Regions from separate parts of the Homo sapiens genome. Here all the other regions are linked to region 4. The links come from fine-mapping of genetic effects on gene expression. A gene starts in region 4. Each other region holds a variant in brackets. All regions are shown on one strand. Distances are between the middles of the regions. Region 1 has its middle 55 kb from the start of SSR1. Region 2 overlaps RREB1 (ras responsive element binding protein 1). Region 3 overlaps RREB1 (ras responsive element binding protein 1). Region 4 holds the start of RREB1 (ras responsive element binding protein 1).

The links. PIP is the estimated chance that this variant, and not a neighbour inherited with it, causes the effect. A credible set is the group of variants that fine-mapping cannot tell apart.
Region 1: its variant is the best candidate, but not a certain one, in a credible set for the expression of RREB1 in monocytes (Kim-Hellmuth 2017, PIP 0.58).
Region 2: its variant is the best candidate, but not a certain one, in a credible set for the expression of RREB1 in whole blood (INTERVAL, PIP 0.55).
Region 3: its variant is the best candidate, but not a certain one, in a credible set for the expression of RREB1 in blood mononuclear cells (TOPMed, PIP 0.51).

What each region holds. Positions count from the first base shown.
Region 1 is chr6:7,255,812-7,260,956 of GRCh38, forward strand. No RefSeq gene overlaps it. Among named protein-coding and RNA genes, the nearest start is that of SSR1, 55 kb to the right of the region's middle. RefSeq lists an enhancer at 2,571-3,070. The variant T/C (reference allele first, on the strand shown) is at 2,479.
Region 2 is chr6:7,156,557-7,161,701 of GRCh38, forward strand. All of the region lies in intron 1 of RREB1 (ras responsive element binding protein 1), which reads left to right. Among named protein-coding and RNA genes, the nearest start is that of RREB1, 51 kb to the left of the region's middle. RefSeq lists enhancers at 1-557, 3,940-4,901, 4,520-4,814. The variant C/CT (reference allele first, on the strand shown) is at 2,309.
Region 3 is chr6:7,244,486-7,249,623 of GRCh38, forward strand. RREB1 (ras responsive element binding protein 1) reads left to right here. Exons shown (of 13, transcript NM_001003699.4): 12 at 1,939-2,736; 13 at 4,026-5,138. The coding sequence ends at 4,483. Among named protein-coding and RNA genes, the nearest start is that of SSR1, 66 kb to the right of the region's middle. The variant T/C (reference allele first, on the strand shown) is at 2,530.
Region 4 is chr6:7,105,712-7,110,856 of GRCh38, forward strand. RREB1 (ras responsive element binding protein 1) reads left to right here and starts at 2,250. Exons shown (of 13, transcript NM_001003699.4): 1 at 2,250-2,349. RefSeq lists an enhancer at 1,059-1,118 and silencers at 1,469-1,948, 2,009-2,228, 3,019-3,508, 3,529-3,618.

The DNA of each region.
Region 1 (5,145 bases), 150 kb after region 4:
CCAGGTCAGCTGGCTATTGAGTGCTTTTGTTGGGATGAAATTCTCCACCAGAAAAATCCTAAAACAGAAGTCCCCAAGAATGGGTGGTGTGTGTCGTCCACTGAAAAGGGAGTTACTGAAAACTAGGAATGCGTGGCCTCTAGGAAACATGGCACTGTTGTGATTTGGCACATAGATATTTGGCATACATATTCCCAGGGTCACTGAGTAAATTCCCAACTGTTCCAGTTCTCTTTTGCTGCATGACGAAGAACACCAAAACTTTGGGTCAGGATTCGGTGGGTTGGGCAGGGCTCTGCAGGGATGGCTCATCTGTCCTCCATGAGGCATCAGCTAGGGCAGAGCCTCCAAGACCATTTTTTCTCGCTCATATCAGGTGCCTCTGTGTGTACAACCCACCCACTCACCTACCCACTAAAAGAACCATTCTTTGGGTTGCTTGTTAAAAATTGCATTTCAGGCCGGGTGCAGTGGCTCACACCTGTAATCCCAGAACTTTGGGAGGCCAAGGTGGGCAGATCACCTGAGGTCAGGAGTTCAAGACCAGCCTGGCCAACATGGTGAAACTCCATCTCTACTAAAAATACAAAAATTAGGCTGGCATGGTGGCAGGTGTCTGTAATCCTAGCTACTCGGGAGGCTGAGGCGGGAGAATCACTTGAACATGGGAGGCAGATGTTACCATGAGCCAAGATCACGCCACTGCATTCCAGCCTGGGTGACAAGAGTGAGACTCTGTCTCAAAAAAAAAAAAAAAATTGCATTTCAGATCTACTAATTCAGGATCTCAGGAGGGAGGACCCAGCCATATACATTTTTAGCAAATTCCTAGAGAATTTGCTAAAGCCCAGAAAAGTTTGCAAACCAGGGCTCTGTTAAAGACTGTTCCAGATTCCTGCCCCTCAGTTGTACCTCTAGTTGCCCCTCAAGCTAACACCAAGGCAAATTGTTTGCAATGGAGCCATTGTTTGGTCTGGGGTAACTCTCTGATATCTAGGATATGTACTGGAAACTTCCTTCAAGCCTCCTGCCTGGCCTCTTTCCCTGCTTTTGCAGCCACTCCTCTACATACATTGGCACAGGTGCTCCCACCCAACTTTACCACCTACCCCCCAAAAGGGAACTTCTAAGAACCTGTGGCTGGGCTCGACCTTGGCACTGAGTCTAGGAGCAGTTGCCTCCACCTGGCTTACCTCCCTGAAGCTTTGGGTCCCTGGTCTCCTGATACGCACTTGTCAGGGCTGGCTCATAATGCTGGGATCCATATGGATAAATGAAAATGTGGGGCCCCACTCTGTCGCCTGGGCTGGAGTGCAATGGCACAATCTCAGCTCACTGCAAACTCCACCTCCTGGGTTCAAGCAGTTCTCGTGCTTCAGCCTCCTGAGTAGCTGGGACTGTAGGCATATGCCACCACAATTGGCTAATTTTTTTTGTATTTTTAGTAGAGACAAGGTTTTACCATGTTGCCCAGGCTGGTCTCGAACTTCTGGCTGCCTCAAGTGATCTGCCCTCTTGGTCTCCCAAAGTGCTGAGATTACAGACATGAGCCACTGTGCCCATCTTGTGTTTGTTTTTGTTTTGTTTTGTTTTTTGTTTTTTAAGAGACACGGTCTCACTCTGTCGCCCAGGGTGGAGTGTAGCGACGCAATCTGAGCTCACTGCAGCCTCAATCTCTCAGGCTCAAGTGATCCTCCTGCCTCAGCTTCTCGAGTAGCTAGGACCAAGGTGCACACCACCACACCCGGCTAATTTTTTTGTATGTTTTGTAGGATGGGGTTTCGCCATGTTGCCCAGGCTGGTCTCAAATTCCTGGGCTCAAGCAATCCTCCCACCGCGGCCTTCCAAGTGTTGGGATTACAGCGTGAGCCACTGTGCCCGGCCAATGGGCTCTCCAAGGCCACATTACCTTAGACATTGGGATACTTACATGCAGGTGTCCACAGGTGCCTGAGATCTCACATCCACCCGACCCTCTCTGCCTCCACACCCAGGCCTCCACCAGGAGCCAAGGGGGCCGCAATCACTAGGCAAGGGCAGGGGGTTGAGTGGCCAAGAGCCCGTCCCAGGGAGGCAGGAGAGAGAGGGAGGCAGGACCACATAGGAGCCAGGGCTCCCGGCAGCCAGTGCACACTCCATTGTCCCATCAGAGTTCACTGACGAATCTCAGTTCAAAGATAGTATCGTAAAGAGTTTCAAGATGGGGCCCTGGGAGCATTGAACTCCAAGCACAGGCCCTCGCAGGGGTCCCACTGCAGGAAGCCGGCCCTGCTGCTGACCCTGCCCACCTCCCTCAGCTCCTTGGTCCTGTCGGGTCTCCCTGCTGACCCCATGGCACTGCTCCACGCTCCTGTCTGTGGGGCCCCCGTCTGTCCCCACCTAGAATTCTGTTTCCATACCAAGGCCTAACCAATGGCCCCTGACCCCGTTCAGTGTTTTGAACCAGCCACTCCTGTTTTTGGCGGCCCTGCCCTCCCA[T/C]GAATCTCACGCCCACGGCTGCCCTCGGATCTGGACACAGTTGCACTTGTTATCTGGTATCAGCACTAGGGAGGCTCAGTCAAGCCAGCACTAACGGTGGGTTTGGTGTCCTTGGGACTTCTCCACCCAGGGCCTGTGCCAAGGCTGGTCCTCAGTGCTTGGTCAAGAGTGGCTCTGGCGGCTCTGGGGTGGTGGCCTCTGCAGCTCAGTGCCCCTGCCACCCATGCTCACTGGATGGGGGCAACACCCTTCCTCCCAGTTCAGGGTGGATGGGCCCCAGAGCACCACCCAGCCAGCCAAGCCTCCTTGCCCCTGCCCTGCCCTCCGAATGGCCCAGATCATACCTGCTGCCTTTCTTTCCTAGCTCACTGCCTCCACCCAAGTCACCTTCTGTCCTGACTCCCAAGGACTTGGGTCCCACTGGGGAAGTCGGGAGGAAATGGGAAGCCTTCCTGACTGTGAGTGAGGGCAGGAGGGGAGGTGGGGTCAGAGAGGGCACCTGGAGGGTGGCAGGAGAGAGCAGGAGAGCGTGAGAGAGGTGGCAGAGGAGGGGGTGCGAGTAAGAAGAGAACACCATCATTGTTTACCAAACCTGAATTACACCACACCAAGTTGTCCTGTTATTTATTTATTTACTCATTTATGTATTTTAGTGTGTTTAATTGAGGTTAAAAAAAGAAGCAAGAAAAGTGTTTGCAGATTGGCTTTATGGCGGTGAGCTTTGCAATGATCTCTGAAAAAGTCCGGGGAGTCCGGCAGGCAGATGAGAATCTAGGCTTGCTGGCGTATCCAGATGACTCGGAAGGAGGACCCCAGACGGGGAGGGGCAGTGCTGGGAGCAGGAGGCGTCCTGGTCAGGCTGTCCATCCATGTCTACCCAGCAAATATTTGCAGGCCCTGAGCTCAGCAGGGGAGGAAATCTCAGGCAAATGAGACACAGACTCTGCCCTCCAGCCGCTTCGGAGAAAACAGCCGAGAAGGACACTGTTAAATGGAGTGGCAAGCCCAGAGCATCAAGGGCATTTGGAGGTGGGGGGCACTGCTGCTTGGGGACATGTAGACAGAATTTATAGAACGAGGCCCCTGGAAGGATTTCTGCAGGTTGCAGCAGGGTGGAGGAGCGTCGCCGGCCCGGGGCCAGGAAGAAGCTCAGGGCACAGGGAAGCTGGCCACGGGGTGTCCCATCACATCAGAGTGGTGTGGGCTACGGCTGGAAGGGGAGGCAGGCCACTGGCTGACACGCCGCACAGCAGACCGTGAATAGACGCATGAGCGAGTCAGGGAGTCAGGAGAGCTCTGAACACTTGAGTTCATTTCCTGCTGGAGGTGGGAGCCGTTGAAGGTTCTTGAGGGCATCCGTGAATGCACCGGAACTGTGGTCTAGAAACGTCCTAGCAACAGTGTGAGACGGGGAGCCAGCAGAGAAATCATCAAACAGTCTAGGCAGAAGGTAACGAGGGCCAGATGTGGTGGTGTGCACCTGTAATCCCAGCTACTTGGGAGGCTGAGGCAGGAGGATCACTTGACCTCAGGAGTTCGAGACCAACCTGGACAATGTAGCAAGGCCCTTTCAAAGAAAAAAAAAAAAAGGAGTTGGGGAGAGAGAGAAAAGGTAATGAGGGTTTGAAGTGGGCTGGGGAGGAGAGGAGCACTGGAGAGATCGCATTTGGCAGTACTTGATTAACGAAGATTGCAATGGGGGCGCACTCAAGCTTTCAACATTGTCACCGGAAATTGGGGGAGGTGGTGCCATGAAGGATGCCGGGGAAGCCAGGTGGAGAAGTCAGTTTGATGGAACACAGAGATCATGGGTTCCTTCTTGTTGGAGGTGTCTATCAGAGGTCTTCAAGTGACAAAAATTCAACTCAGAGGCTGGGTGCATTGACTTATGCCTATAATCCCAACACTTTGGGAGGCAGAGACAGAGGCAGGACTTGAGTCCAGGAGTTCGAGACTACCCTGGGCAACAAAGTAAGACCCCCATCTCTACTATAAATAAATAAATAAATAACTCAGATCAGCCTCTACAAAAATGAGAATGGGTTAGCCCACATTGACAAAAAGTCCAGAAAGTGACTTTAGTTAGATGCACGTCCACCAAAGCTCATGTTCGAGCCCACCATGTCCCATCTCCTGGTTCTGCTTTCTTCCTCAGGGAGAGCACCTGCCAGGCAGCAGTGTCGCTCAGCTTATGCGCAGCCAGCTTGGGGACTACAGCAGCTCATCCTAACAAGAGACCAGAACTTCAGGCTGGTCTGAGGCATGTGCCCACCTCTGGGTCACACGTCATTCTTGAAGCAGTGGGCAAGTCAAATATCCCCACCCCTCCTGCACAGAAAAGGGGAGGATCCCAAGAAGAGAATGTGGGGGCTGCCTCCAGGAGGAGAAGAAAGACTTGTGGGTCCACTGCAGACATCCAGGTGGAGATGTCTGGAGCCCAGGGGTCGGGTAAGAGCTACAGCCAGGTTGGGGTTATTGTGGGAGGAGCCGTAGGAGTGAATGAGATCAGGAAAGGTGGCCGGGGTAGACCTAGGACCTAGGGACCTAGGAAAGAGACAGACACGCTGGGGAAGAAGCGTCAGAGGACAGAGGGTGAGACGCTTGAAAAGGAAGTGGGCGAGAACAGTGTTGCCTAAAAAGAGGGAGCCCAGTTCCCTGAAGGTGAGG
Region 2 (5,145 bases), 51 kb after region 4:
TGAAAAAAATGTGAAAGCCATTTTGGGTTGGACATTTGTAAAACAAATTTTTTCTCCTTTTGGAGACCTGGTGCCCTTGGTATTTGTATATAGAATCCACTTGTTTATTCTTGAGGAGAGCAGCTATGTGTGTGAATTGGGCATCCGTTGGAAGAAACATAACAGGCTTGCCTGTAACAGCTGGAATATAGTTGCAGCCCTTTGAAATAAGACAATCTTAGTTTTCCTTCCTTCTCCTTAGCCAGCCATCCAGCGTAGGAAACAGGATGCTGTGTACGTACCCTGAGTAGGAGGAGAGGGTTCCAGAGTGCCACTTGGCTGCTCCTGTGTACCCATTCTTGTTCAAGAGCACCTTGAGATCACATGGTCTTAAATGCCAAAGCTGACCAAGAGCTGCCCCTCTGTTCAGCTTCGTCGTCCCTGGCTGTTGGGGAGGACTTTGTCTGTCTGACTGCCGCTGGGCTGCCTTGCCCCAGCTCCCTGGGGTCCTTTGCTCCGTAATCCATCAGCTCTTCTTTTCTCTTCTTCTTACTCATAGTATAAGACCCGACTGCCCATTTTTTGGAGATGACTAATTAATTAGTAAAATATTTGGCTGGGCGCGGTGGCTCACGTCTGAAATCCCAGCACTTTGGGATGCAGAGGCAGGCAGATGGCTTGAGTTCAGGAAGTTGGAGACCAGCCTAGGCAACATGGTGAAACCCTGTCTCTACCAAAAATACAAAAACTTAGCCAGGTGTGGTGGGGCGTGCCTGTAGTCCCAGCCACTTAGGAGGCTGAGGCACAAGAATTGCTTGAACCCGGGAGGTGGAGGTTGTAGTGAGCCAAGATCGTGCAGCTGCACTCCAGCCTGGGCAACAGAGTAAGACTCCATCTCAAAAAAAAAAAAAATTGAGTGCCTACTGTGTGCACATGTACCCTGTGTGACCATGGGCCAGGCACAGTGGTTCATGCCTGTAATCCCAGCACTTTGAGAGGCTGAAGCAGGTGGATTGCTCGAGCCCAGGAGTTCGAGACCAGCCTGGGCAACATAGTGAGACTCCGTCTCTCCAAAAAAAAAATAAAGTTAGCATGGTGTGGTGGTGCGCACCTGTGGTCCCAGCATTTGAGAAGCTGAGGTCGGAGGGTTGCTTGATCCTGGAAAGTCAGGGCTGCAGTGAGCCATACTCCAACCTGGGTGACAGAGCAAGACTCTGTCTGTCTCTTTGGGAAAAAAAAAAAATCCAACTTACGAGTTCTCTTGTGCTCCCTCTCCACTGTTCCTCTTTGCTCTTTCATCCCTCCTGACTCCAGAAGAGGGCTCTACCACTCGCTGCTAATGCCTTCACATTTGTCTGGATTCCTGCCTCCTGGGGACCTCATCCTTGCCAGCCCCTGTTGCTGTGCCTGTGCCCTACCAGGGGTGTTTTCATGTTCTCATCAGTGACCCTGCTTAGCCCTGAATATCATCAGCCGGCTCATGCCTGACTTCTCTGTGGAGGGATTCATCCCACGTGCATTCTTCAGGGTATGAATCCCACAGGACCAAGACCTTCTGGATCCCTTTCCATTTCTTCACATTCAAGAATCTCTGCAAAAGAATGTAGCCTAACCCCCCTAACAATCTAAAACTTCTTCCCAAGCACCATTTAGTGCCCCAGGACACTTGCCTGTGGCCAGAGCGACTCTCTTCCTTTCTGCCCTTTCCATTGTCTACCCCACCTGCCTCCCCTTTGAAAGTTGTTCAGGTTTAACTTTCCCTCCCTATTCCCTTTGTTCCCGTTTGTAGGCAGGTCTCCCTCCCCTGCAATCCCATACCATGTTCAAACAGGTTTTCTTAAAACTCTTACATCACTTTTCTCAGCCTACACCCCCTACTGCCCCAGACCCAACCCCAACTCTCCCACCTCCTGTAATTTGCCCACTCCACACACACCCTCTGTAATGAGGCCCCTGCCCTTCAGCAGGACCTGGCTCCTGGGCTTCTTGTGGTACTTCCTGGGTATCAGCTCCCTCCAGCCTCCACCTCCATACCCTTCCTCTTACACTACCCCAGTCCACTAATCTCTGCTTTTTCTAGACCTAAAATTAGAATTGTATAGACAGCACTTAATTCTCTTACCTTCCCAAGCTTTCTTTTACCTCTTACCAAGTGGTAAGCTTATGGAGTTCCCCACCCCAACCTAGTAGTGGATCAGGAGTTACTAATTGAAGTAGCTGACATACATTTTTATCATCAAGAAATATTTGAGGGCCTAAAGTAGAGTATTTCACCCCCAAATCATTTGAAGGTAGATTGTGGGTCCCATTTGTTTATTTTTTTCAGACT[C/CT]TTTTTTTTTTAAACCTTGATAGCTTAAAGGCCAGGAAAAAACTGATTAGTTTTCATCTTCAAAGGACACAGGATAAAAGAAGGACTGAGCCAGCTCACCCCTACCCTCCAAACACCTTTAAATCACAGTCACTTTTCCCACTCCCCTGGTTGTGACTTTTGAATTTTATAGTTGATATAATCCCTCCTTTTATAGCCGATTTATGCACTGCAATTTAAGTAAGCAGAAATGTTCAGTGCATAGGGGGACTCAGATTTAATGATTGTTGACTTAAATTTAAAAGGATCACTAAGGCCCCTGTACCTCTTACTTATTGCAAAACAAACATTCTCCGTAAGACCACCCTCTATTCTGTGACCCCTTTGAGGTTCCTAGGAATTGATAGGTTGTGGGCCATGTTTACACCCACAGGAGGACTTCTTTACAGAAAACCTCCCCAGCATCTTTGATGGCCTAGATGTGTTCACAGTCACACTGAGAAAGTTTTAACCTGATAGTCATCATTCAGAAACTAACTCGAATCCCAACATCATTCCTGGAATAACGGGACAGCCGCATAGATGGGGCTCACAAGGATGTCTCCCCTCTCGTTCCTTTCCAGAGGATGAGTTCTGTTTTAAAATTATAACTGTTTATTACAGGCACTGGGCGGATTGCTTTAGGAATTGATTTAACGAATGTTCACTGGGTTATTGCCTTGTGTCAATAATGTTTTGAGTGAAATATCAAAACGCTGATGAGATGGTTTATCTCATCTCATCTTTACAAGAAAAGGGAAGGTTAGAGGATTTGGTGTTGCCAGTGTTTTTACTTATTGTTGGTGGCCTGCCTGAAACTGATGGCAGTAGTAAGTAAGGAAAAAGCCTGCCAGTCTCCTTAACTCTCCAAAAGTAGGATTAAATCTGCTGAGGGTCAGACCACTGCCGTAGTTCTGTCCTTTCCTGGAAATCATAGATTCTTTTGAAAGGCTGATCAAATTTATGGACTATTTTCCTAAAGCTGAATACTGTCTGCATTTTACATGTGGTTTCAAGGGTATGACTCTTGCACTTGTCTACAGAACAAGGCTTATCAACCTAAGCATGTCATCTGTTCAGCTCAGCTGGCCCATAGTTGGCTTGCAGTACCTGTTATAGATTGAGAGAAACAATGCCTACTGTGTGCCAGGCACTGAGCTACAGACTAAAGATACATAAATTGGGGGAGGGAGGGCAGGGTGCAATTAAGGACTGAAATTTGATCACTTTCTTTTTTGCATTTTTTTTTTTTAAATGAGACAGGTTTTCCCTCTGCCACCCAGGCTACTTGAGTTCAGTGGTACAATTATAGCTCACTACCAAGCCCAGCAAATTAAAAAAAATTTTTAGACACAGGGGTCTTGCTATATTGCCCAAGCTGGTCTCAAACTCCTGGCGTCACGAATAGTTGGGTCTTTCTGGTATATTTTCAAAAATTATGTTAAGTTTTTTTAAAAAAAAATAGTGACATCAAATTATACTTAAAAAAGCACTGTATTCTCATGATACATACGTTGTTTCAGATTGCCTTTTCTAGACTTTATCCATAAGTATAGCATAGAATCTTAAATGTGCCAGCTAGCTTTTTAAACTTGACCTAACTTTATAAACATTTTCCCATGTTTTCACACATTGACTTTTTTTTGAGACAGGGTCTCAGTTTGTCACCCAGGCTGGAATGCAGTGGTGTGATCACCGCTCACTGCAGCCTTGACCTCCTGAGCTCAAACAATCCTCCCGGTTCAGCTTCCTGAGTAGCTGGGATTACAGGCGCACAACACCACACCTGGATAACTTTTTTTTTTTCTTTTTTTTTTCTTTTTGAGACGGAGTCTCATTCTGTCACCAGGCTGAAGTACTGTGGTGCAATCTCAGCTCACTGCAACCTCCGACTCCCTGGTTCAAGCAATTCTCCTGCCTCAGCCTCCTGAGTAGCTGGGATTACAGGCACGCGCCACCATGCCCAGCTAATTTTTGTATTTTAGTAGAGATGGAGTTTCACTTTGTTGGCCAGGATGGTCTCCATCTCCTGACCTCGTGATCCACCCGCCTCAGCCTTCCAAAGTGCTGGGATTACAGGCGTGAGCCACTGCACCCGGCCCACATCTGGGTAACTTTTTGTGTTTTTTGTCTAGATAGAGTTTCGCCATGTTGCCCAGGCTGATCTCGAACTCTAGGGCCAAACCGATCCTCTCGCCTCGGCCTTGCAAAGTGCTGGGATTACAGGTGTGAGGCACAGTGTCCAGCCCACATTGACCTTTATGTTTGAGGTGGGACCAGGTTCAAGCAGGTTTAGGGTAGATGGGGCAGGGTGGGGATGACTCACCTGGGAGAGGTCAGCCTGCTTATGACACGTCCCTCTATTGTTGGTTTCATGGATTATTTCCCTCTATGAACTGAAACTCTAGTCAACACTAGGCAAAGTAAGTTACTTTGAGATCCACTAACTCCCCTCCCAAGCCTGCAGGTAAAACCATCCCAGATCACCTTTATTCCTGCTTTAGGGTTTAAAAACCCCAGGAGGCAAACAAATTAAAGACTGCAGATGTTCTTAGGATGGTTAGACTTGACACAGAAGAGAAAGAGGTACAACTGTTCATAGAGTTCAGTTTGACAATTAACATGTATATTAGTATGGTTGCCTGTGTTTGTGTTATGTTTCACTGTGTTTCATCTTCCTGTGCCTGGGATCCCCCATGCCCTCCTTTCCTATCTTTCTCAAAACCAGCTGTTTTTCCCCATCTGCTGCATTTTGGTTATAGATATTTATTTGTAGGTTTGCTTTAAAACAAAACTCCTCTAAATCCTACTTGATAACC
Region 3 (5,138 bases), 140 kb after region 4:
ATTCTATAGATGCTCTCTGTTGAAATGATTCAAGAAAAACGAACATCTAGTTTTTCCTTGGAATGTGGCCCAGACATTGGTGTGCATATCCCAGGACTCATATTCTTTAAGCTTTTGGATAATTTTGCAAAATCATTTCTTCTTTAAAATGTTATATTCACACCATAATATTTCTTTCTGAAACCTCTTGAGATACCCAAACAGTGGCTGCCAAAAAGTGCAGTCAGTGTAAAACTAATGAAATGAAATGATGTAAGTAGCCGCGTTATGCAGATGGCTGTGGGTAAAGCCTAAAGCCCCAAGCAGGTGTGAACAGTAGGTACTGTCTCCTCAGACCTCAGGACGGGGCAGAACCAGCTCCTTACCCCAGCCCTCCTGACCGCCTTGATGGCAAATCATCAAGCATGTGACATTGAGGAGGTGTGATGGATGCAGGTTGACATTGTAGTTACACCTGATCACGTCAAGTGAGAATCCAGGTTAGGTGCGTGAATCTGCTGGCTCAAGGACTGCAATCACATCTGGCCTATTGAGGGAGGGGCATCTCGTACTTGTGCCATAAAACAATGACTTTCATCCACCCAATTATCAGAGGAACTTGAATCCCTGCAGTAATAAATCAGACAGTGGCCGGGCACGGTGGCTCACGCCTGTAATCCCAGCACTTTGGGAGGCTGAGGTGGGTAGATCGCCTGAGGTCAGGAGTTCGAGACCAGCCTGGCGAACATGATGAAACCCCATCTCTACTAAAAATACAAAAATCAGCTGGGCGTGGTGGTGGGCGCCTGTAATCCCAGCTCTTGGGAGGCTGAGGCAGGAGAATTGCTTGAACCCGGGAGGTGGAGGTTGCAGTGAGTGGAGATCACACCATTGCACTCCAGCCTGGGCGACAAGGCGAAACTCCGTCTTGAAAAAATAATAAAAACTAAATCAGACATAGGATCTGCAGCTAAATAATAGGTCCCACCAGCTTCCAATGTACTGTCGTAATGCATAATTTTAAGAAGTTATTAAGTCTTCTTTCAACCTTAGTAAAGAGAAGGCCTTTTGACACTGTTTGATGTGAATATTGCAGCCGTGCCATCCCTTAAAAGGACTGTTGAAAACTGATAGGCTTTCCACATACAGTTTTACTGGGTGGAATGGACAGATAGGAACAAATCAAGAGGCAGGAAGTCAGGGTAGGTGAGATGCCTGGAACCCAGAACCCCTTGTCTTCACAGGCACCCACAGCCCTTCACAGTCCGCTCCCCTCACTGTGTGCTGTTGCCAAGCCTGGCATCAAGGGTGCCCTTCCTTTGAAAGATTCCACCACCCCTGGGAGGCTGACAGCTAGGAAGCCTACAAGCTTGCCTGCGCCCCCTTGGGTCTCTGCAGCCTCCACCTGGAGATGAGCGTCAGGCAAGAGTGTGCATACCATACACACACAACGCAGGCTTGGGGTCGTTTCCTGTGAAACTCATCAAGACCATGCTTTGGAGGATTAGGGGTAGGGGTGGTCCTGTGTATGTTGCATGTTTGTATGATCTCTTTGCACTGGAAAAATAACTTATAACTCAAGCTTCCTCAACTTCCCTAGCGCTGCGAGTCTCTGGAATGCACCCCTCTCCTATCTCGCAGCCCCTGTCTGCCCTGCCTGAGTCACTCACACCTTCCTGGGGGCGGGGGCAGTGGAAGCCAGGGGTTCAGGGGCACAGCCAGCCCTGGGAACACACCTGAGGTGATGTGGAGGCTGCTTTTGCCTTTCTTCACGTCCCCAGGGTCATCTTGGTCCTCCTGGGGGATGTAACAGGTGGTGAGGATTTGGGCCGAAAGAAGTCCTCACTGGTTTGGGGTTCAGGCTGCTGGCGTGGGTCTAGCCCATTCCCGGCGACATCCCTGGCATGGGCGTACCTGGTGGTGCCCCTCTGAGCCCTCCCCGCTGTGCTTGCCCCACAGACAGTCAGTCGGATGCGGAGACTGCAGCCGCCGCGGGCGAAGTGCTAGACCTCACCTCACGGGACAGAGAGCAGCCGTCGGAGGGCGCCACTGAGCTCCGCCAGGTCGCAGGGGATGCGCCTGTGGAGCAGGCCACGGCGGAAACGGCCTCGCCGGTGCACCGGGAAGAGCACGGGCGTGGGGAGAGCCATGAGCCGGAGGAGGAGCATGGCACTGAGGAGAGCACTGGGGACGCCGACGGCGCGGAAGAGGACGCGTCGAGCAACCAGAGCCTGGACCTGGACTTCGCCACCAAGCTCATGGACTTCAAGCTGGCGGAGGGCGACGGCGAGGCAGGCGCCGGGGGCGCGGCCTCGCAGGAGCAGAAGCTCGCCTGCGACACCTGTGGGAAGAGCTTCAAGTTCCTGGGCACCCTGAGCCGCCACCGGAAGGCGCACGGCCGCCAGGAGCCCAAGGACGAGAAGGGAGATGGCGCCAGCACTGCAGAGGAGGGGCCCCAGCCCGCCCCTGAACAGGAGGAGAAGCCCCCCGAGACCCCGGCAGAGGTGGTGGAGTCGGCCCCGGGTGCCGGGGAGGCCCCGGCGGAAAAGC[T/C]CGCGGAGGAGACGGAGGGCCCCTCCGACGGGGAGAGCGCGGCCGAGAAAAGGTCCTCAGAGAAGAGCGACGATGACAAGAAACCAAAGACAGACTCCCCCAAAAGCGTGGCCAGCAAGGCAGACAAGAGGAAGAAGGTCTGCAGCGTGTGCAACAAGCGGTTCTGGTCGCTGCAGGACCTGACCCGGCACATGCGCTCCCACACAGGTAACCAGGGCAGGCCAGGTCCCCGGCCCAACAAGAGGAGGCGAGCCGGGCACCTCTCCTAGGAGCTCCCCTGAAGCGGCGCTGGAGGCCACCGAGAGAACGTTTGCTTACGTTGCCGGTGTGCCCTTTAAGCCCGTGAACTAGGAGTTTTAAGGAGTTGTACTCTCAGCCCTTGAAGACGGTGCAGGCCTCCTGCAGCCAGGCAGGAGAGGGTCCTTGGCCGTTGTGTTTTTGAGAACGCTGTGATCCGCCTTTAGCTCTGCTGCCTCCGCCTCCCCATCTGTAGAGTGGGGGTAACAGCTGCCCTGTTTCATAGAGGTATCTAGGAGAGGGTGCTTGTGCTGGGCATTTGGGCCACTTAGTCCTGTCTAGTCCTGTGGCCTGGACGACAGGCACTGCCCCAGGCCGCTGTGGGGCAGGCACCCTGGGTGATCCATTAGGGTCAGGAGGGCCTTTTCCTTTCTTAGCCGTGCAGTTCGGCTGAGATGACTGGGACAGGACCCTTAGCCACTGCCCTTCACACCGTTCTAGAGTTCACCCACCACCTGCAGGGTGGAGGCTGCAGACCCCAGAGCAGGGGCGCTTACTTTGACACAAAGACCTGAATATGCTCATGGAGTCCAGAGATATATCCTTCTTCTTTCCAAAATAACCTGTCCCTCCTCTCAGCCGCAGCTTCCCTCCCTGTCACAGCTGCAGCCCGCAGTGAACACATGTGCCCCGACCCAGCGCAGTCGGCTCTGCCCTGCGCTTGCCCGTGTGAAGGGCCAGGGTCCTTGGCTCTCAGAAGAGGGATATTCTTGGGCTCCCAACAAGCGTGGTGGGCCCTGCCCTGGGCCTGGCGTGTGAGCCATCAGGAAAGCCCCCGCTGCACCACATCGCAATGCAGAGGGTAACTGGTGCCCCCGACCTAGGTGCTGCTGTCCATACAGATCCCTGAGAGGGTCCACTCCTGTCCCCCTCTAGATTCCTTCCCAGTCTCTGGTCGAGGCCAGTCTGCACATCTCCTGAGGCTTCTGCTTCTGGGACCTGGGTTTTCTGGATCAGTATGTAGAGTGCCTGGGCTGAGAGAGGAAGGAGAGGAAAGGTCTCAGACTGACAGCTTGAACCAGCAAACAGAGCTTGTCCGTCCTCAGTTTGCTGGTTCAAGGAAGAGGCCTCTGGCTGAGTAGGACGGAGTCCTGGCCCCCCGCACATAGCCTGGGAGCCTCATTCTTCCTGTGCAGAGCAGGGTGCAGTGGGTACTGGTGCCTTTTGGTTAATGGAAATTCTTTCTTCCATTGTTCCAGGGGAAAGGCCATACAAATGTCAGACCTGCGAGCGAACCTTCACCTTGAAGCACAGCCTGGTTCGCCACCAGCGGATCCACCAGAAAGCCAGGCATGCCAAACACCACGGGAAGGACAGCGACAAGGAAGAGCGGGGTGAGGAGGACAGCGAGAATGAGTCCACCCACAGCGGCAACAACGCCGTCTCAGAGAACGAGGCTGAGCTGGCTCCCAATGCCAGCAACCACATGGCTGTCACCCGGAGCCGGAAGGAGGGCTTGGCCAGTGCCACCAAGGACTGCAGCCACAGGGAGGAGAAGGTCACGGCAGGGTGGCCGTCTGAGCCTGGCCAGGGTGACCTTAACCCAGAGAGCCCGGCGGCCCTGGGGCAGGACCTGCTGGAGCCGCGCAGCAAGAGGCCTGCCCACCCAATCCTGGCCACAGCTGATGGCGCCTCCCAGCTCGTGGGGATGGAGTGACAGCCTCAGTCCCCCTCAGCACAGACAAAAGCCAGCAGAGCAAAGCGTCTATACTTCATGGGGTTTCCTCAGTGCCCTTTGGCTGTTGAGGAGTGAGAGAGAGAGAGAGAGAGAGAGAGAGAGAGAGAGAGAGAGACAAGCAGGAGCGTGGCTGCTCGCTCAGTGCCATAGCCTTACCGCAGCCTGCGCGGGAGGCCACAGCCCGTGCCGATTCCAGTGCCTTAACTACTTACCGGATCCCTCCATATTATCATGGGTGTTGTATTTTTCCAAAATGACTTCTTAAACAAAACAAATATTATAATGAATTGTCTGGAGAGGACCTCTTCATTTGAGCATTAGCGTTATTTTGTATTGGTGTGTGTGAGCTTGTTCTTGTGAATCTGTGATAGCACCGTTTGTTCTGTGAGCTGGAAACAGAAGGAAAAAACATACCCTTGGGTACCCATAGCCAATAACTGGAAGAAAATGATGTGAATTTCATGTAAATGACCAGAGGAAAGATGGATAAGATGATAATTTCTTAAATAGACATTTTCCTTTTTTCTTTGTGCTTCATGGTGGAGCTGTCATCTGGTCCTTGGTATTACAGGATGTGGTTGATGAAGGTTTCCAATATGGTTTCAGGCCAAAACCAGGGAAGATTCTAGCTTCA
Region 4 (5,145 bases):
ATAAAATTCCAATTTTGATATTTTTCCTATTCAAAACTTATCCCTGAATGGGGAGACCAGGAAAGGCTAGCTCCTGAATCAGAGACAAAGTGAGTAAATAAAGTAGCATTCCCCACAGGGCCCTTCCTCTGCCCTCATTGGAACACATTACAACTTAGAAACACAAGACACCTATTCTATGATGGCAATGTGAACTATTATTCCTGTCTAGAGACCTGCCCATCTCCTCCACGACTGGCCTGTCTTCAAAAAAGCATTTGATAATACATTTGGGGGCGGCGGGGTTGGGGGAGGCTCAGAAAAATGCAACCGCTAAAATTTCTCTGGATGGAGTTTTCTTCAGTAAACAGTAGACCCTGGGAAACATAACAGGTTCCGAAAACTTAATTTTGATGACTGAAAGTCAGAGAAACAGCCAGCTGAATCAGCTCCTTCTTGGGCAGTGGTTTAGCCTACTTATCTCATATCAGACCTAAGGGTCCAGCTGCTTTTCCTTGGTTCTAAAGAGTTCTATTCTGGCCAGGACCCATCCCGAGACAGACACTTCTGTCTGCAGCCCTGAAAACTAGAGGTCAATGGAAGGGCTCAAATTAAAGGCCCACAGTTGGGCTTACAACTCTCCATGGTGTTCAAGCCTTCTCAGAGGAGCTGGTGTGGTGGAGCCAGGGTCAAAGGTCATAGTAAATAGAAAGTAGCCAGCTTTCTGCCTGCATAACATCATCTTGCCTAACCAGACTCAAACGCTTAATTCTACTGTAGTATTCTTTGGACATTCTTCTTTAGAACTACGGGGGCGGGGGGGGGGGGGCGTGTTTATTTTCAACAACCACAATCATCCTTATCTTTCTGAAGATGTTTCCAAAGGCTGAGAACAGACCCCTTTCAGAACCTCGGTAGGAGAAGTATTAACAGTTGGAAACATGTCAGCTGCTTTATGGAGGAAGCACAGCCCAGGCCTGGTTTCTCTGGGCTCCGTGATAACTTGGGGCAAGGCAGCCAGTGCGAAGCGTGGTGGCAGGAGCTGGAGAGATGGAGAGCGGCTCGGAGAAGGGCCCCTGCTTTTCAGAGTTGAAACAGGAGCCCTCTGAGAGAAAGAGATACTGCGTGTGGCTTCTCTGAAGCCTTGGAGGGCGACGTGGATGACACAGCATCAGCCATTCCATCGCGGGGTGGGGACACAGTGGCGGCAGGAACCGTCCTCAGCCCCTGGCGGCCACGGCAGTTCCCCGCTGAAGCATCCTTTGTGGGGTGTGGGTAAGGGAGGGGGACCAAAGTCGGGTCGGAGTTGAGTTTGTTAGACGGCGAGCACACTCAGGGCGGCAGCCCGAGTAAGAAGGATGGCCCCGGGAGAGAAACGGCTCGAAGCTAGGGGCGGGGTGAAGCGCCTGCTCCTTAATCTCCTGCCCCATCATCCACTCGCCCCACCTGGATGCAGAGCGAGGACCGCGTGGAAAGGAAACGGCGCGGGCGGGGCTCCCCCTCGCAGATGCCTCGGAGACCCAGAGGGGCGGCGTCAGGCCAGGGCCCCGAGCCCTACGCCCCCCATCCCCCCAACTCCAGCGCCTCTGAGGTGCCCCTCTCGCAATTCCGAGGCATCACCGTGTCTCCCCCGCCTCCGTTAAAATAGTGAAACTGCGGAGTGAAGTGATGGAAAGCCGGGGGCGGGGAGTCGCCCGCGGCGAGGGGCTGCAGGGGAGGGGGCGCGGTGGCCGAATAAGGTGGCCCGCGAGCAACGGGACGATTGGGATCGCAGCCAGTCGCGGCCTCCCGGACCCTTCCCCTCGGGCAGCCCGGCCCTCCCATGGCCCGGGGCGCCTTGGGAGGGCGTAGGGCAAACCTGGGGCTGCGGTGGGGGGTGGGGAGGGGACTCCACCTCCATCCATCCCGGGATGGCAACTGCGGTCACCCTGCTAAAGTCGGGGCGGGGGCGGCGGTCCTCCCCCTCACCCCCCCCAGTCCGAGCGCCGCCGCCGCCGCCGCCGCCGCCGCCGCGGCCGCTCAGTAACACGTCCCCAGGAGACTCGCAGGAGCAACACGTGATGTGTCTACTTATCAGGGTGAGAGGGGGAGAGCGAGACTCCGAGCGTGCGGGCGAGGAAGCTGGGCGGGGGGCCGAGACGGGGGCCGGGACGACGGCTGGGGCGCCGGGGTCGCCAGCTCCTCGCCCACCTCCCTCCCTGTGGGAGAAGAGGAGGAGGGGAAGTGACTGCGGAGTTGATGAACTTTGCACATCCAGAAACGCCATTTTGATTCCTTTTCCGGAACAAGTTTGCATCTCTCCTCGGTCTCTCCCTGAAGCCCACCGGTCCCCAACGCATCATGCCAGGGAGCCAAGCGTCCTGCCCGGCCGTAAGTACGTGCCCCGGATTCCGACTCGCGGTACGCCGGCGGCAGCGAGAAGTCTGGGGCACAGCCGGAGCGACCTTTTAAAGAACTTTGGGGATGGGGAGGGTGAAGTCTGCAGAGCGCGTTGTACTTTTGAAACTCGGTGTGTCCCGGAGCCGGGGACCCGCACGCCCCACTCCGCGCAGCGTGCGCTCGGGCCGGCGGGGCGGCCAGGGATGAGCGGGGCAGCCCTCTCCCCTCGGGCTGCGCGCCGGGCCATTCCTCCTCCTCCTCCTCCTCCTCCCCTTCCTCCGCTCTTTTCCCTTTCCCGAGCCGCCGGCTCTGCCAACCAGCTCCCAGCGCGAGCCGCCGCAGCGCCCCGCCAGCAGGACCTGATGCGCATCCATATTAGCCGTCCGAGCGCAGGAATCCGGCCCGACCCGCGCCGCCGAGTTTATTTTTAACCAGCACCGCCGGGACTCGGATGGTGCGCGCACCGCCGGCCAGAAACATCTTCCCAGCGCTGCTCTCCATCTTCCGCCCTCTCTCCCTCGACATCCTCCCCCCCATGTGGGAGGGGAAACTTTTCTCCTACATACTTTCGAGTCCTTCTCGGGCCGGGAAGCGCGGAGATGACGGCGCCCGCCCTCCCGCCGCCGCCCTAAGGTATCCGGGGGTGCCTGCCCGGGGTGCTCGCGCGGGGGTGCCTGCTCGGGGCTGCTCGGTGGGAGCATCCGCCGCGCCCTGCTCTGCGGACTTTGAACCTCCCGGGCGGACGGCGCCGGCCGGGAGGGGGCCGCGGGCAGCCCCGCGCCCTCGCGGGTTCCCGGCTGGCGGTCGTGGTCACGCCGACCACCGCCCCGGGGGGCCTGGGGAGGAGGGGACCGGGCCCTAGCCGTGCGGGCACGTATTGTTCCCTCGCCCTTCCGTTGGCGGGGTGAGTGTTTTCGTGGGAGCCCTCGGTGTGGAGCTAGCCTGCCTCGCGGGCGGGGGGGGTGGGGGGCTCGGCGCCGTCACGAGCACAGGAAGGAGGCCGGGAGCATCCGAGGCGGGGCCGGCCGCCGGGGCCCGCTCCGCCGCCCAGCTGTGGAGCGCGCTCGGAAACTTTTGTCCGCCGCCCGCTGGACCAGTTTTTCACGAGTTCTGGGGCTTCCCTTCCTCCTCCCATCCCGGCCCCCGGCGTCTAGCTGGGTGGGGGGAGGGGGCCTGTTGCTGCCCCCCCCGCCCCCAACTTCCCGCACAAGCCTTGGGCCGGGCCCCCCGCGCCCCCTCCCCGCTCGCGGTCTCTTAGGAAACTGCGACCTTAATGGTTGCTAAGGAGCAGGGGAGGTCCTTCCCGTCGCCGACCCCCTCCCTGGGAAGCGGCGTGTTTTCTGGACCGGGCCAAGGGCGCGTCGAGGATGTGACCTGCTCCGCGGCCGCGCGTGAGTGCGGGGCGCGTCGGCCGAGCCCACCGATGGGCGAGGCCACCTTTCTCTCCGGGCGGGGCGGGGAGCTGGGGGACGCGGGGACCCCACGGGGTGCGGGCCCGGGCCGCTTGACAGGCGCCGCGTGCAGCTCGCGCCCCTCGGCCGCCGTGCATCCGTGATGGGTTATAAAAGAGGAGGAAAGTATTTCTCCTTGCTCAGCAGATTTGCCCTCCCTCGCTCCTTACTGGTTAGGAGATAGAACGTGAGCCCAGATCCGGACGAGCAGTTCACATTCCATTACGAAATTCTACACGGCTTCAGAGCCAGCAGCAGCACACATTCGGGGCACTTTGGAGGGGTTTTCTTCGTTTGAGGATGCTCCTGCTGCTGCTGCTTGTGATGGTGGTGGATGTGGAGAGAGACAAAAGGGTGAATAAAAAAATATAACGTTTTGGTATGTTGAAAAACCTGTCCGGGGGTTTTCATTAGTAGAAAATTGAACCCTCTTAGAGTTTAGATTTAAGCTTAGCTCTTTAAAAGCCAGTGGAAATAAAGTTTGCCTGTTGAATGGTGTTGCTGGAAATAGCGAGGAATTTCTGTCTTAAGAAGAAATGATTTCTGCAAAGGCAGAGTTGCTAGTGCATCTCCATTATTTTTGATATTTTTTTTCCCCTTTATATATGTAGTGGACCCTGCATGTGTGCGAGTTGATTCTGAAATAAGTTTAATTGAAGTGGAAGGTGGGGAAAAGAGAACTGCCAAGAAAAGAATGTGGTTTAGTTTTGTTTTTTCACACCCATGAAAATCATCCTCTAGATTTGGTGCTTTTTCAAGTAGGCAGGTATAGTTTCTAAGACATATTTCAACCCGGAAGTCTGAGTTAGATAGAGGCCAAAGTGTTGGCTAAAACCTCTTTGAAAAACAAACGTTGAGTTTTGTGCTATCTTCAAGAGTCCACAGAACTTCTGAAGGAATGGGTTCGAGCTACTCTACAAGTAATTTATACAAAGACAGAATCACTAATTTTAGGGGTGGTGTGTGTGTGTGTGTGTATGTGTTTACCTCCGCCCTTTGGAGGGAGCCTTCTGGGTACCCGCTGATGGGTCCTGCTTTGATGTGCTTTGAGCTTTGGTTACACTGATGAATTAAACATTTGAATGGCTTTAATCAAGTTTTAAATGTGTTAAAAAAATACCTTTCCCCCATTTTTACAAAAGAAAAGGAGAGAAGAACTCTTTGATTTAGTTATTTGCTTAGCTTGTGCTCCATTTTAGGTTAATGAACTTGCATTGTCTTTGTCTTAAAAATACTGCTAAACTGGTTGCATTTTAGAATGTCTTGTTTTTAAAGAGGATTTGCTGGATGTGTAATACTCTTAAGAAATGCTGCCGATGCTTACCGTTTTGTGGAA